Linked DNA regions of Homo sapiens: region 2 is linked to region 1. The links come from fine-mapping of genetic effects on gene expression. Tissue or cell type: whole blood. Region 1 holds a variant in brackets; the other region holds the start of a gene. All regions are shown on one strand. Distances are between the middles of the regions.

Region 1 (8,179 bases):
TCTCTGCCTTTTACCTCCCAAAGGTAAGTTTAGTCATTAGCCAGGATTTGAACTGCAGATCATGAAAATTTGGTAACAGGCCAGCCGTGGTGGCTCATACCTGTAATCCTAGCACTTTGGGAGGCTGAGGCAGGAGGATCACATGAGGTGAGGAGTTCGAGACCAGGCTGGCCAACATGGCAAAACCCCAACTTTACTAAAAATACAAAAATCAGCTAGGCATGGTGGTACACGTATGTAATTTCAGCTACTTGGGAGGCTGAGGCATGAGAATCACTTGAACCCAGGAGGTGGATGTTGCAGTGAGCCGAGATCGCACCACTGCACTCAAGCCTGGGCAACAGAGCCAGACTGTCTCAAAAAAATAAAAATAAGGCTGGGTGCTGTGGCTCAGGCCTATAATGGCAGCAATTTGGGGGGCCAAGGCAAGATAACCTGATGTCAGGAGTTGGAGACCAGCCCGGCCAACATGGTGAAACCCTGTCTCCACTAAAAAAACAAAAATTAGCTGGGCGTGGTGGCACGCACCTGTAGTCCCAGCTACTCGGGAAGCTGAGGAATGAGAATCACTTAAACCCGGGAGGTGGCGGTTGCAGTGAGCTGAGATCGTGCCACTGCACTCCAGTCTGGGTCACACAGCGAGACTCCATCTCAAAAAATAAAAATAATAAACTATCTTAAAAAATAAAATTTGGTAACATAGGCTACCTATGTATTAACATGAAAAAAAGTCACAATTCTTTCTAGCCTGTCCTGAGGGTTCAAATAAATCCCAGCCCTTAACAAGGAAAGATCAGGTCATTTATTGTGTCCATGAAAAAAATAAACAAGTAGTTAACCCAGGACACTTTTCTTCTACCTACCCCCAAGCCCCACCAATCCCCAGGCACTGACAGCCATCCCTACCCAGTCTCATGTTTACCCTTGAGATAAAATTTGGCTATGGCTGTCCTGACATCAACGTTTCCTTTTGGACCATGACTCAGCTTTTTGGATCCCTTAATTTCCTATGCAAAGGAAAGACAGATGAGCTAAGTTAGATCTCCAGTCATCCTACTAACTGGATGGATCTAATGTCAATGCAACAGCTCCAGTCAGTGAATAGAGAGCTCAGATCCTTCACAGTATACCACCATGCCCCACCCTATCCCACCCCCAAGACAGTAGAGGCTTCTCACTGCTACCTCTAGCAATCTCTCATTGGCTTAATTTTTTCCTTCTATGACACAGGCAAAGGAAGGAATGTCAGTGCTCAAAAAGCTTCAGATTTTAGAGTATTTCAGATGAGGGATAATGATTCCAACCTCTATTTGGGAGGCGGGGTGGGGGGCAATGAAGGAAGCACTAACAGGTAAAACCAACCAGAAAATCATTTGATACAAAATTCCCAATAATTATATTTTTAAAATATTTTTCTTTTTTTATTTTTCAAACATCAACTTGAACCAGAAATCCAATAATTACAAATAAAATTTACACTGTGGCTGGGCATGGTGGCTCATGCTTGTAACCCCAGCACTTTGGGAGACTGAGGCGGGCAGACAACTTGAGGTCAAGGGTGTGAGACCACCCTGGCTAACATGGTGAAATCCCACCTCTACTAAAAAAATACAAAAATTAGCCAGGCGCGGTGGAGCGTGCCTATAATCCCAGCTACACAGGAGGCTGAGGCAGGAGAATTGCTTGAACCCGGGAGGTGGAGGTTGCAGCGAGCCGAGATCGCGCCATGAACTTCAGCCTGGGCAACAGAGTGAGATTCTGTCTCAAAAAACAAAAAAAGTTACACTGTGAATTTTCCAAATGCTTCATTTTATAAATCTGCAAGTAAGAAAAATTTCACTGCCAATTATGCAAATTCCATAACGAACCCCAAAGATCTGAAAGATAGTTTCATAACACCAGGAAATTATGAGGTACCATGTCAATTAACATTTTACTCCATTTTATAGTTAACCAAACTATAAATGTGCTTATCTTTATTCTCAGGATCTGTTTTTTTCTTTTTTGAAAAGGAGTCTTGCTCTGTCATCCAGGCTGGAATGCAGTGGTGCGATCTTGGCTCACTGCAACCTCTACCTCCTGGGTTTCAGCGATTCTCCTGCCTCAGCCTCCCGAGTAGCTGGGACTACAGGCGTGAGCCATAATGCCCAGCTAATTTTTCTATTTTTAGTAGAGATGAGGGTTTCATCACGTTGGCCAGGCTGGTCTCGAACTCCTGACCTCAAGTGATCCACTGGCCTCAGCCTTCCAAAGTGCTGGGATTATAGGTGTGAGCCACTCTGCCCAGCTCAGGATCTGGTTTTAATGGCAATTTTTTGTATATACTCCCATGGCACCCAGACTTCTTTAAAACACATACTAGACTTAGAATTTATTCTTTGTCATCTTCCCCAACTAGGCTATTAGCAACATGGGGGTAGGTACTGCTATATCTTTCAGCCTAGAGTTCCTGGCACATAGTAAGTGCTTGGTAACAGAGGTACCAAATAAATCAATCACTGAGTGGTACTGAAATTTTAACTCCTTTAAAAACATTGAGGCTGAGATTCTGGTTAAAAGTCTATTCAGAGAAGCTGCTGGATAGAATGTCACAACAGGAGGCCGGGTGCGGTGGCTCACACCTGTAATCCCAGCACTTTGGGAGGCCAAGGCAGCAGGTGGATCACAAGGTCAGGACTTCAAGACCAGCCTGACCAAGATGGTGAAACCCCACCTCTACTAAAAATACAAAAATTAGCCAGATGTGGTTGCGTGCGCCTGTAGTCCTAGCTACTCAGGAGGCTGAGGCAAGAGAATTGCGTGAACCCGGGAGGTGGAGGTTGCAGTGAGCCAAGATCATGCCACTGCACTCCAGCCTGGGCCACAGAGTGAGACTCCGTCTTAAAAAAAAAAAAAAAAAGAATGTCACAACAGGTACTGGATGGCCTGTTTGGAGGCCTAATTCTAGACCCTATCTCCTATCTCTTACTCCCTTTCCCTACATTGCACTAGGGATTTCTCAGTTCTGCCAAACTTGGGAAGAAGTGTAAGATAGAGGCCTCTCCATCTCCTGAGATGTCCACTTCCCTGTTACTGTGCTCAACCCCCTGGGCATAGAACTGGAGTTCCCAAAGATGTTTCTGATTCAGGAATGTGAATCTGAAAGCACAAAGGGCAAATCAGAAAATGGAACTCATTGGTGTTTAACAAGAAAGAAGAGATATTTAATATTTAATAATATATATAATATATAAGAAATATATAATATTGAATGATAAAATTCCAGAGAGACTACACCAAAACTTAATAGTTACCTTTGGGGAATGAGAACATGAAGAAAGGGTGGTGGTGGGGTATTCCTGTGAATTTTTATCTTTTGTTCTACAGCCTTCTTTACTGGTTAAGTACTTATTTGTTAACCAAGAATGTGAAAACAACAGAATATCACTAACCCCAATCAAAGAGCCTCTCACTTCAAACAACATTTAGCTGGTATATAAGTACACGTGTGTTTACTTTGCTATTAGATCCAGGGCGGAGGTAGTGATTTTAAAAAAACAATTCTAGTAACAACAGGAAAAATCAAATTGAAAAACATATCAAGCACCATGGACTCAAAGGTTAAGTGTAAGTGCACTTGCCAACAATAGGTCTCAACTCAACTGAAAATGACGTGGCTTCCTTATCAATTCATGTTGTCCCCTGAATCCCCTTCTTAAGTAGGAGGGAAAAAACGTATTCCATATAGAGTTTGGTATGTGGGAAAGTTGTGTTTTTTGTTTTTGGGGTTTCTTTAGTTTTTTATTTAAGAGATGGGTTCTTGCTCTGTTGCCCAGGCTGGATAAGCTTTTGTTAATGCAAACGACATCTTATACTATAAGAGATACACAGAGATATACTCACAGTTTGGGGGAAATGTCTTACTAACATTCAGGTACTTAGTCTCAAAAATGAAGCTACTGAAAAAGCTTCATTCTCATGGAGGATGGGAAGAGTTACATACATGAGCAACTCAAGGGTTTTTTTTTTGTTGTTGTTGTTGTTGTTGTTGTTGTTGCTGTTTTGAGACGGAGTCTCGCTCTGTCTCCAGCCTGGAGTGCAGTGGCGTGATCTCGGCTCACTGCAACCTCCACCTCCAGGGTTCAAGCAATTCTCCTGCCTCAGCCTCCCGAGTAGCTGGGACTACAGGCGAGCGCCACCACGCCCAGCTAATTTTTGTATTTTTAGTAGAGAAGGGGTTTCACCATGTTGGCCAGACTGGTCTTGAACTCCTGACCTCAGGTGATCCACCCGCCTTGGCCTCCCAAAGTGTCTTTTTGTCTAATACTGAAAAGTTGCAAGAAACGTTAACTCTCTAAACCAGCGCTGTCCAATACAGTAACCACTAGCCACATGTGGCTAATGCGCACTTGAAATGTGGTCAGCCAGAACTGCGATATGCTATGCGTGTAAAATGCACCCAGGATTTAAAAGACTTAGAAAAGACTCCAAAAGAGAATGCAAATACTTCATTAATAACTTTCATAGTAATTTTAGGTTGAAATTGTTTTGATAAATTAGGTTAAATAAGATATGCTATTAAAATTAATATCGGTTTCACTTTTTTAAAACGTGCCTACTGGAAAATTTTAAATTACAATTTTCAATGCAGCTTGCATTCTATTTATGTTGGACAGCGCAGCTCGGAGCCTTAGTTGCCTCGGCGGTGAAATGGGGCTAACACCCACCTCGAGCGGTTACTGTAAGGATCCAGTGAATTAAAGCTGGTAAACGTTTGGCATATGCCAAGCAAAGGGCAGATGCC[C/A]AGGCAGGCGCTCGCACCAGAAGAGACTGAGAAGTGGTTGAAGCCGCCCTCACCTGGCTTCCAGCTACTGCAAGGACAGCCTTTGGGGGACACGCCTTTCTTCTTCCTCTGGTAGACCAGAAGCTGGACTATCACCCCAGGAACCCGAGGCCGCCCCAGAGTCTGCTGTGCTGCCAGCCAAGGGGTTGGTGAGTGAGGCGGGGGGCGCTCCTTCCCACAAGCTGGTCTCAGTGAGCAGAAACAGGGGTGCAGTGAGGAGGAACTCCAAAGCTGGGGCGGCCTGCTCGGAGGACGGCCGCGCAGGCTAAAAGAGCGGCCCGCGGAGAAGGCAAGGAGGCGGCTCGGCTCCCCGGACGTCAGCCTCGGCGGCCCCACCTACCTGCCCTGCAGATTCCCCGAATGCCGCGGCGGCCGCAGCTCCCGAGGCTGCGACGGCTTCTCCTCGTTCCACACCGCCCACTGGCTCCTGGTCCATCGTCGTCGCCACCACAGGGCTGCTGGCGCTGGTGAGAAAGAGGGTAATGGCCGGTAAGCCCACTTCCATCCTTGGTCTCCCCGCCCAGTCGCTGGCCGAGCCAGGCTGTCGGGAAGTGGGACTCACCCGCCCAGCGCCCGCCTCGCGCCGCGCCTAGCCAAGTCTCTGAGAAGGGGACTCGCCGGCCTGAGGGGCGGGGCCAGCCCGCGCCTCGCCTAGCCCGCCGGGCTCCGCACCCCGAGAGCTGGCCAACTGCAGTCTGGGAGGCGCAACTACCGGCTCGCGCGGGGCGGGGCGGGGCGGGGCGGGTCCTTGCGGGGCGTCGCTTCCGGCCAAGCAAGCATCCAGAGCTCGTGGATCCCCGCCTGGCACCGCCTGTGACGTCATTTCTGGTACGTGTACCTGAAGCCTGGCGTCTCGACCTCGGCGCAGCCCGTCACCAGCGGCGTCTGGGGCAGTCACCCCGCAGGACCTCGGTTTTTGCACTTGTAAAATGAAGACAGCTGTGTCGTTGTACTTCAAAGGCTAGTGATGGGATGTGGTTGCTGAAAAATGTAAAATGTACGGCTCGTGCTGCACTTTCCATTCCAAACGTGGGTGACAGTCCAGCCAAAATACCCTCGAAAGAAGAACCCCAGGCGTGATATTTGCTTACTCTTGTCTGAAATACTTAAGTATAACTGTAGAAAGTGTTAAGTGAAAAGACCTGAAGGAGAGCAAAGGGCAGTAGTAAGCTTCCATCTTGACAAATGTAAGGAATGTTTTATCTGTGTCTTAAAGTCGTGTGCGTATGTTAGAGGGGGCGTCCCAGATTTTTTCCGTCTTTCGCAATGTTCAACGAAAGTAAAAAATCATGCAATTACTGCATGACTTCAACATCAAACAAGTCTGAGGTTCTGCAGGTAAATGGTATATTGTTGTTTTAGCATGAAAGTTTTCACAAATATGTAGGGGGCAAAACCAAAACATACATTATTTTGGCTATGGGAGGCTTCATTTGATACTTTAAATTCCATTTTCATACTAGTCTCAATTCAGAAATGCTCCCTAAAGTTGTATGACCTTGTAAATGTTTTTCATCATAGCAACAGCAGGCCCAAATATTAAATATTCCTTTCTCTTCTGTGCCAAAGTTCTTCTCCTTACCCTCTGCCTAATGTTATTGTACACTTCCTATTCTATGTATAACTGGAACCTAAAAACAAAACCAAAAACTTTAAAAAACAAATAATCATTTGAAAACCATCTACGCCTTAAAAACTAGTTGGAAATCCATATTGCTCTCTATCCTGGTAATAAAATCAAGTTAGGTTGCTGCTGAAGTAAACAAGTTAGTACCTGATCTGACTCTGTATGGTGGCATCAGCAGGGAGTTGAGACAGTCCAAAACAGCAAAACCAAACTCGGCCATAAATTGAAAACAAAAATAAAGAACCAATTGTTAAGACTTCATGAATTGGCATTCATAAACAACACAGTTCTGCATTATATGTATTCAAAATCTCTTCCTTCTTACTGGCAAGCAGGGCAATCAACAATCTTTATTACTAAAACTTTGTGGGATATTTATAAATGCATGATTTTATTTTCCAAAGTGGCAATTAAATATCAAATTACAATTTTCTTTTTCTTTTTTTTCTTTTTTTTTTTTTTTGAGATGGGGTCTCACCCACGCTGGAGTGCAATGGCGCAATCTTGGCGCACTGCAACATCCGCCTCCCGGGTTCAAGCGATTCCCCCACCTCAGCCTGCCAAGTAGCTGGGATTACAGTTGTGCACTACCACGCCCGGCTAATTTTTGTATTGTTAGTAGAGACGGGGTTTCACCATGTTGGCCAGGCTAGTATCGAACTTCCGACCTCAGATGATCCACCCACCTCAGCCTCCCAAAGTGCTGGGATTACAGGCGTGAGCCACCACGCCTGGCCTCAAATTACAATTTTCATTGCCGAAGCAGAATATATTTTCACAGTTTACATGTGTATTTCTTAGTTTACTGAAAATTCAAAGTACAAGTTACATTCTAACGTGAACTGGAAGTATTTCCTAAAAAGTTATTTTTAACACAAATATCCAATTGAAGAGCAGTTTATTACAAATCAACAACTCGGGCTGGGCACGGTGGCTCACGCCTGTAATCCCAGCACTTTGGGAGGCGGAGGCGGGTGGATCACGAGGTCAGGAGATCGAGACCATCCTGGCTAACACGGTGAAACCCCGTCTCTACTATAAAATACAAAAAATTAGCCGGGCGTGGTGGCGGGCGCCTGTAGTCCCAGCTACTCGGGAGGCTGGGGCAGGAGAATGGCGTGAACCCGGGAGGCGGAGCTTGCAGTGAGCCGAGACCGCGCCACTGCACTCCAGCCTGGGCGACAGAGCGAGACTCCGTCTCAAAAAAACAAAAACAAAACAAATCAACAACTCAAAGCAACATAAAAGCATAGAAATTCTAATGGTTTTATTTTGGACATTTATATTTTTGTCATTATTTCCAAACTGTTATAGCTCAACCAAAAGTAGGCACCAAGGCAATGTGCCAAATTTTTCCTTCTTTCACTTTGTAACATAAATTGTATCGTAGCACTATGACAAAAATAAATTCAAGTATTATGATAATTTATCTACTTGAAAACATAATGTGGTCTAAATTTATCATTTAATGATACATATAGAGCTAAAAAGGTAAATTTGGATTGAACCATTTCTGCGTAAGGCTGGGAAAATAAATCTGAATAAAATTTGATAACCAGGAATGTTCATCAAATAAACAAGACATTCTTAGGGTTTTAACATAGCTACATATATATACTTTGATAGAGAATTTTTTAAGTTATCCATCAAACAGGACAATATATTTTCATCAAAAATAATGCACAAGAAAAAAAGATGATAAAAATAAAAATGCATTTTAGGTTCAGTCT
Region 2 (8,179 bases), 74 kb before region 1:
CTCCGTAAACATGATATAGGGGAAAAAAAGGCAAGAGAAAAACAGAGGGAAGGAACAAATTTTTAGGAAGCAAATTAATGAAGAAATAATGACTAAGCATGGTGGCTCACACCTGATCGCTTGAGGCCAAGAGTTTGAGTCCAGCCTGGTCAACACAGCAAGACCCCACCTCTTAAAAAAAGAATATTAATTTTAAAAAATAAGTAAAAATTTTCAAAAATTTTAAAAAAGACTAAAGCAATAAACAGGTATGTACCCAGTAACATGAATAAAGCAAAAGCAAACCAAAGGAGAGAGCTTTAGAGAGACAGCAGCCAAATGATAGAAAGGTCCAAAACAAACTGGAAGGGTTAAGATTTTCCATTGTAATGCTTACGTATAAGGCTTGATCAATATCCCCCTGTCCACTCTAATCATCCAAGTTGATGAACTATAGATAGTAGACAGAATAGGCCGGACGCGGTGGTTCACGCCTGTAATCCCAGCACTTTGGGAGGCCGAGGCAGGCGGATCACCTGAGGTAGTTCGAGAGCAGCCTGACCAACATAGAGAAACCCCGTCTCTACTAAAAAGAAAATAGAAAATTAGCAGGGCATGGTGGCGCATGCCTGTAATCCCAGCTACTCGGGAGTGTGAGGCAGGAGAAAACCCGGGAGGCAAAGGTTACAATGAGCCGAGATCATGCCATTGCACTCTAGCCTGGCAACAAGAGCAAAACTCCGTCTCAAAAAAAAAAAAAAGGGAGAGAGTAGACAGAATAAATATAAGCATATTATCTCAGTCGCTAGATTTCAGAGGAACTTCTGAAAATACTAATATGGCCAGAGACAGTTCTAGTCAAATGCTATATTCTTTTCTTGCTATGAACAGTGGCCATAAGTAGTATTAAGTACTCACATCATACTAGATGCCTAAGAAAACAAAATTAATGATCCTTCCAAAAGGAAAAAAATGTAAAAATTAAAACTGCTATATAATTTCAGTTTTATGTGATGGGTAAAGATTAGCACAAATTATGTATGTTGTTACTTTTTTTAAAGAGAGAAAATTTTGTCGTAAAGAGAAAATAAATCTTACTAAGAGATGGAAAAAAGTATAATCAGAAGAGTGATTCTCAGCAACTAACAACAAAAAAGAATGGCTACTTTGAGGTTTAAAGTTATTAAATTAAAAATAATTAGCCAGGTATGGTGGCACATGCCTGTGGTTTTAGCTACTGAGGAGACTGAAGCGAGAGGATCACTTGAGGCCAGGAGTTTGAGGTTACAGTGAGCTATGAACACACCACTGCACTCCAGTCTGGGCAACAGAGCAAGACCCTGTCTCAAAAAAAAAAAAAATTAAAGAATAAAAACATACATATAAAAAAACCAAAATTACCTCTCAAACCATGTTTTTATACTGTGTGCAAATGACTCCCCTGGATACAGCTGATTATTTCTTAGATATGAAAGAATATCTAGTAGTTTATTTGAATAGTTATCATCCTTTATGTCTTTTCCAAAATCAAAGAAAGCTTTTAAAGTTTCCAACATAGGAACAATATCATGACCTAGCAATTCCTGATATAAATTCCAAGCTGTGTTTACATCTTGATGAAGGAGAGCTCCCTGGATACAGTCATTATAGTTCTTTTTTGAAGGAGTTATAACTTTTTTGATGTCCTCTAACAGCAACAATGCTTCTCTCCATCTGTCTGAATGGATCAATCCCCGGATGAGAAGACTGTAACCTCTAGGTTCTAAAGTCTTATATCTGGCTTTCATAATTTCAAAGACATCAATAACTTCAGATGTCTGCATATGAAAGACACAGAGATACAAATACTTGACCAGTAAATCGTAACTTACAATACCATTATTTTTGGCTGCTACCCATGCCAGCAGAGATTTAGCCACATCTATAGAGCTATGACAGCCAGCCATCTGTGAAATGATCCAACTTTCGAAACTGGTCTTTCCGGTGTTTTCTTTTAAATCTTCCTTAAGTTTATCCCACTCCTCTGAATTCAAAGGTTGTGTTGGGAGTTGAATAGTGTTCCTCACAGGTGCCAAGGCATGATCTTCAGTTTGAGAATTCATCTGTGATCTCTCCTTAGCTGCTCCAGCTAAAAAAAAATGAGGAACAGAATAAACTTGCTTATTACTGCCCTCATCTTTCCTGAGATATCTGGCCTTGGCAATCAGATTCGTTGCTTTGGTATTCTGTGGAGACATTGTTTTAAGAGAAAACAACCTCTGCTGGTTCCTGATGCCACAGCGGTCTGCCAGAAACAGCGAGACATAAGAGTGCCCTGGGCCTAGCCCAAGGTATGGGCTCTTCCAAAGCTTCGGAAAGCTTCGAATACCAAACAAATAGAAAGTCATTATGCAGTGAGATCAGCACCAGATAGTGAGAGAGATGTTGAAAAAACCCCTCTTCTATGGCAAAATTAAAGAGATTGGGGGTCGGCGGTGCAGAGTCGAAGTGGAACTTTTTAAAAGGTTTGTGTTTCTTCCTTACAGACAAATCAAGGTTCTGCTTTTGGGGCTACTTAAAAGCAAGAAGGCAGGTGAGTTTTCTCTATTAAACAACAATCCGGGGATGTCCAACGTCGCAAGCCGCAAACCAGGGGACAGAGCAGGAATCCTCTGGTGCCTCTTACATTCCAGTTCATGAACCTGAGGAAAAAGCACAAGACGGAACGCCCAGTTTTACTCACGTGGATCACAGCTGTCCTGAAAAGGAACAGATTCCCACGGGAAGCTTGCTGGAAAGGGGGTGTAAAGCCAAAACCGTATCCAGGGACCCCCAACTCCAGCCTACCACCAACAGCGGCGAAAGCCGAAGTCTAGGGGCCCTCACCCTGCATAGCTCTCTACAGACCGCAAAACTCCTCCGGTGGGGGGACGAGGAGGGAGGAGGTGGCGAGTCAGCTGCGCCAACGACTCAGGAAAGGAAGAGAGGTACAGGAAGGGCGCTGCCTAGACTGCGTACCGAACGCTGACAAATGAAGTTCACTTCATTCAACAACTCAAAGCGGCACTCAGACTTAACGCGGCCATAAACGCGGCGGAAACTACAGTGCCCACGATGCACCGCGCCAGCCCCGACCGACGGACGAGACTGACCCGGACTTAGGCGTTCCGCCTGGCCCGGCGGCGAGGAAAAAAGGCAGTTTTGAAGCATTTAGTGGCAAAAGGGGTAGGAGACGGCTGCTGAAGTGTCTACTACATTCAGGGGACCTGGAAGGCTTCCAGATATCCGCAATGAACAATGAAAAGAAATTGTGAAAGAAGGCGCTTCCCTCAAGCCGGAACTAATGAACTCCTGGGTCACGTGGTGCGCACGCGCCAAAGGCACACGATAAAGGAAAACGCGGGCTTATCGTGGCCTTTAAAATCCGGCTTGGTGAGCTTGGGTCGCCTCTGAAGGAGAACCATTTTCCATCTCTTTCATAGTTTTTTCCCCCAGTCAGCGTGGTAGCGGTATTCTCCGCGGCAGTGACAGTAATTGTTTTTGCCTCTTTAGCCAAGACTTCCGCCCTCGATCAAGATGGTGGTTGGACGGCCTTCCTAACCTTTACGGGGCCTGGCGGTGCTGACGCCTGAGCTGGTAGGGGTGGAGCAGGTAGGAAACAGCAAATGCAGAAGCTGCTGCGCGGAAGTCGGCCATGGACTGGAAAGAAGTTCTTCGTCGGCGCCTAGCGACGCCCAACACCTGTCCAAACAGTGAGTTTTGGGAGGGGCAGCCCGTTGGGATGGCCCGGCCCTAAACTCCTAGAGGTAGGGGGGAGGTGGGGAGGAGGAGCAAGGGGGAGCCGCCTTTTCCGCTTCTGTGAAACCTCCCGACAAAGGAGGCGGAGTGGAATGTGGTTTAAGGATCCCGATAGGTTTGACCCAAACTTTCCTGGGGCAGAATCTAGAGGAACGAAAAACTTAGCTTTAGTCACTGACTTCCATGGTCTTAATCTAAACTTGTGAAGAATAACTTGGAACCCCGGCTCCAACAACGCCTGAACCCCACCAGGACCTATAATTGTCCTCCTGCCTTTTTACTGTCACGCTTTTTGCTTCCCTCGTAATCCATTTTATATTTCATAATCCATTTTTCCTTTTATTTTTCTCCTTCACATTGCTTATTAACTAACCTCGTTAAATCTACCTTTCCTATTCCACACCCGCACTAAGGGCTGTTGAAAGTGGCTGGAGAAAAACAGAACCTTGGTGAGTTGTCTCACTTTTTTTTTTGAGACGGAGTCTCTTGCTCTGTCGCCCAGGCTGGCTGGAGTGCAGTGGCAGCATCTCCGCTCACTGCAACCTCTGCCTCCCGGGTTCAAGCGGTTCTTCTGCCTCAGCCTCTGGAGTAGCTGGAACTATAAGCGCGCGCAACCACGGCCGGTTAATTTTTGTATTTCTAGTAGAGACGGGGTTTCGCCATATTGGCCAGGCTGGTCTCAAACTCCTGACCTTGTGATTCGCCCACCTCGGCCTCCCAAAGTGCTGGAATTACAGACGTGAGTCACCGCGCCCCGCCGAGTTATCTCACTTTTAATACAAGTCCACTAATCTAAAGAAGGTGTTTTGGTCATGTCTACCGTGTTTTCCTGGACGTTCATTCTCCTACATTCAATTTTCATCTCCCAAACTGCCAATCTGTGTTTTCCTAAATACACTTTTTTTTTTCCGATACAGGATCTCCCTGTGTTGCCCAGGCTGGAGTGCAGCGGCGCAGTGAAGTATTGCTGCAACCTCGATTTCCTGGGCTCAAGGGATCTTCCCACCCCAGCCTCTTGAGCAGCTAGAAGTACAGGCACACGCCACCACACCCGGCTAATTTTTTATTTTTAGTGGAGATGAGGTCTTGCTATGTTGCCTGGGCTGGTCTCGAATTCCTGGCCTCAGGCAGTCTTCCTACCTCCACCTCCCAAAGTGTTGCTATTACAGACGTGAGCCGCCGCACCCAGGCAACACTCTTTTACACTATTCTTCTCATCTCCTACACCTGCAGTCTGTCCTACCCGCTTCTTACTTTAAGCTGATGAACTTGTATTTTAATATATATCTCATTAAGAAAGGAGAAGCAGTCGGCCGGGCGCGGTCGCTCAGTCCTGTAATCCCAGCACTTTGGGAGGCCGAGGCGGGCGGATCACGAGGTCAGCAGATCGAGACCATCCTGGCTAACACGGTGAAACCCCGTCTCTACTAAAAATACAAAAAAATTACCCGGTAGTGGTGGCGGGCGCCTATAGTCCCAGCTACTCCAGAGGTTGAGGCAGGAGAATACCTTCAACCCGAGAGGCGGAGCTTGCAGTGAGCCCGAGATTGTGCCACTGCACTCCGGCCTGGGCGACCGAGCGACACTCAGTCTCAAAAAAAAAGGAGAAGCAGTCAGAGGAGAACATCACCTGTCCCCCTTAACATTTCTTTCAGCCCCACAACCCCACAGTTAGTTGCCCATACACTCTGGCTTCACTGTTAAAATGATGAACTGATGCCGGGCGCGGTGGCTCAAGCCTGTAATCCCAGCACTTTGGGAGGCCGAGGCGGGCGGATCACGAGGTCAGGAGACTGAGACCGCAGTGAAACCCCGTCTCTACTAAAAATACAAAAAATTAGACGGGTGCGGTGGCGGGCGCCTGTAGTCCCAGCTACTCAGGAGGCTGAGGCAGGAGAATGGCGTGAACCCGGGAGGCGGAGGTTGTAGTGAGCCGGAGATTGTGCCACTGCACTCCAGCCTGGGCGACAGAGCGAGACTCCGTCTCAAAAAAAAAAAAAAAAAAAGATGAACTGTCCATGCTCCTATTTAAGAGTCCCTCCAGTCCACCACTAGATTGCATTCTTTTCCCTGTATTCACTGACTTCCTTCCAGCCTCCTCCTTTCTTTCCTACATCATCAGATTTTCCTTCTGCTGGATCATTTACACCAGCACAAACGTGCTGTTAATATCACCCATCTTTTTAAAAGGTGGGTGGTCGGGGGTAGTGGTGTTGGGAGGCTCGGTGGCTCATTCATGTAACCCCAGCACTTTGGGAGGCCGAGATGGGAAGATCGCTTGAGGCCAGGAGTTTGAGACCAGCCTGGGCAACATAGTGAAACACCGTTTCTACAAAAATAGAAAGTAAAAAATTAGCCCGGGTGGTTGTGCACCACTGTAGTCCTAGCTACTCGAGAGGCTGAAGCAGGGAGGGTTGTTTCAGTCTAGGAGTTTGGGGCTGCAGTGAGCTATGATCATGACACTATACTGCAGCCTGGGTGACAAGAGCCAGACCCTGTCTTAAAAAAAATTCATTTGGGCTGGGCACTGTGGCTTACACCTGTAATCCCAACACTTCGGGAGGCCGAGGTAGGCAGATCACTTGAGGTCAGGAGTTCAAGACCAGCCTGGCCAACATGGTGAAAGTCCGTCTCTACTAAAAATACAAAAAGTAGCTGGGCGCAGTGGTGCACACCTGTAATCCCAGCTACTTGGGAGGCTGAAGCGGGAGAATCGCTTGAACCCAGGAGGCAGAAGTTGCGGTGAGCTGAGATTACGACACTGCTCTCCAGCCTGGGCGATAGAACGAGACTACATCTCAAAAAAAAAAAAAAAAGTCATTTGATCCCACATCCCTCTCCAGCTTCTGTTGCATTTCTCTGCACTCTTCATAGGAAAACTTCTCAAAGAAGTTACCTGTACTTGGCTGGGCGCAGTGGCTCATGCCTGTAATCCCAGCACTTTGGGAGGCTGAAGTGGGTGGATCACCTGAGGTCAGGAGACAGACCAGCCTGGCCAACGTGGTGAAACGCTCTCTCTACTAAAAATACAAAATTTAGCCGGGCATTGTGGCAAGTGTCTGTAATCCCAGCTACTCAGGAGGCTGAGGCAGGAGAATCACTTCAACCCAGGAGGTGAAGTTTGCAGTGAGCCAAGATCGCGCCACTGCCCTCCAGCCTGGGTGACAGTGAGACTCAGTCTCGGAAAAAAAAAAAAAAAAAAGGAAGGTACCTGTACTTGTACTTTGTGTGCTTTCTTGACCCCTTAACTCTTAAACCCACTGCATTCTTTTAGCAGATATTTATTGCATGCCTGTTTTGTGCCAAGTACCGTTGTAGCTTATAGCAGAACACAAAAAAATCTCTGTCTTTGTAGAACTTACACTTTAGTGTGGAGAGAAATAATAAAATAATAAGTAAATTATATAGGTTGTACAGCACCTGCGTAAGTCTGGTTCCTTCATCAGTGTACTAGATCCTATCCTTTGTAGTAGATTCCATTTTTGCCTGCTGAAGGATGTACTCTTGCAGTTGTCCCTTCTCCTGTATCATCAGTTTTTCTTTAATCATTCCCATCAGCATATAAACATGCTGGTATTTCTCCCATCTTAAACTTTCTTGACTTAATTTCCACCTCTAGCCATTCCTCATTTTTCTGTTCCCCTTATAGCAATATTTGTTAAAACAGTTGTTGGTTAAATCTGTACTCGTCTCGAATTCCTGCTTGTCAAGAATCATCAGTGACTGCTATATTGTTAACTTCAGTGGTCAGTTGTCAGTCTTGACTTTGCTTGAAAAATTTTGCAGTTTTCTACAACAGCACTGAGCCATAGTAAAGAAATTAACTTATAGGTTTGGTCTAAGGTTAAAAATTAACATAATAGGCCAGGCATGGTGGCTCATGCCTGTAATCCCAGCACTTTGGGAGGCCGAGGTGGGCAGATCACCTGAGGTCAGGAGTTCAAGACCAGCCTGACCAACATGGAGAAGCCCCATCTCTACTAAAAATACAAAATTAGCCAGGCGTGGTGGCACATGCCCGTAATCCCAGCCACTCAGGAGGCTGAGGCAGGAGAATCCCTTGAACCTGGGAGGCGGAGGTTGCCGTGACCCGAGATCGTACCATTGCGCCCCAGCCTGGGCAACAAGAGTGAAGCTCCATCTCCAAAAAAAAAAAAATTAACAGATGCAGCAGAAATGCAGTCATAAAAGGAATTCAAGGAAACAATTACAGGCTTGTTGGGAAGGAAATGAGACCAGAAAGAGTAAAATAACTTTTGAGAAAATAGATCACAGAATTCAAGAGCTCAGTGAGGCTGAAGTGGAAATGGTATGGCAGTGAGGTTTTGAATTACCAGAAAGGATGATCTGAGAGTATATTTGAGCTTAAGATTTCAGAAAGGGATCAAGTAAAATCTGTGATCTTGTCATAGAACCAAATGGC

Evidence for each region. PIP is the estimated chance that this variant, and not a neighbour inherited with it, causes the effect.
Region 2: PPP2R3C starts here. The variant in region 1 is fine-mapped to the expression of PPP2R3C in whole blood (INTERVAL, PIP 0.98).

The regions. Positions count from the first base shown.
Region 1 is chr14:35,043,612-35,051,790 of GRCh38, reverse strand. FAM177A1 (family with sequence similarity 177 member A1) reads right to left here and starts at 5,519. Exons shown (of 5, transcript NM_173607.5): 1 at 5,163-5,519. The coding sequence starts at 5,327. RefSeq lists enhancers at 4,650-4,709, 4,810-5,079, 5,800-5,999 and a silencer at 5,330-5,679. The variant C/A (reference allele first, on the strand shown) is at 4,784.
Region 2 is chr14:35,117,433-35,125,611 of GRCh38, reverse strand. PPP2R3C (protein phosphatase 2 regulatory subunit B''gamma) reads left to right here and starts at 3,622. Exons shown (of 13, transcript NM_017917.4): 1 at 3,622-3,710. The coding sequence starts at 3,653. PRORP (protein only RNase P catalytic subunit) reads right to left here and starts at 3,060. Exons shown (of 8, transcript NM_014672.4): 1 at 2,977-3,060; 2 at 1,381-2,660. The coding sequence starts at 2,366. PRORP-PSMA6 (PRORP-PSMA6 readthrough) reads right to left here and starts at 3,773. Exons shown (of 15, transcript NR_182666.1): 1 at 3,560-3,773; 2 at 1,381-2,660. RefSeq lists enhancers at 2,567-3,076, 2,160-3,079, 3,087-3,166, 3,707-3,836, 3,080-3,999 and 1 more.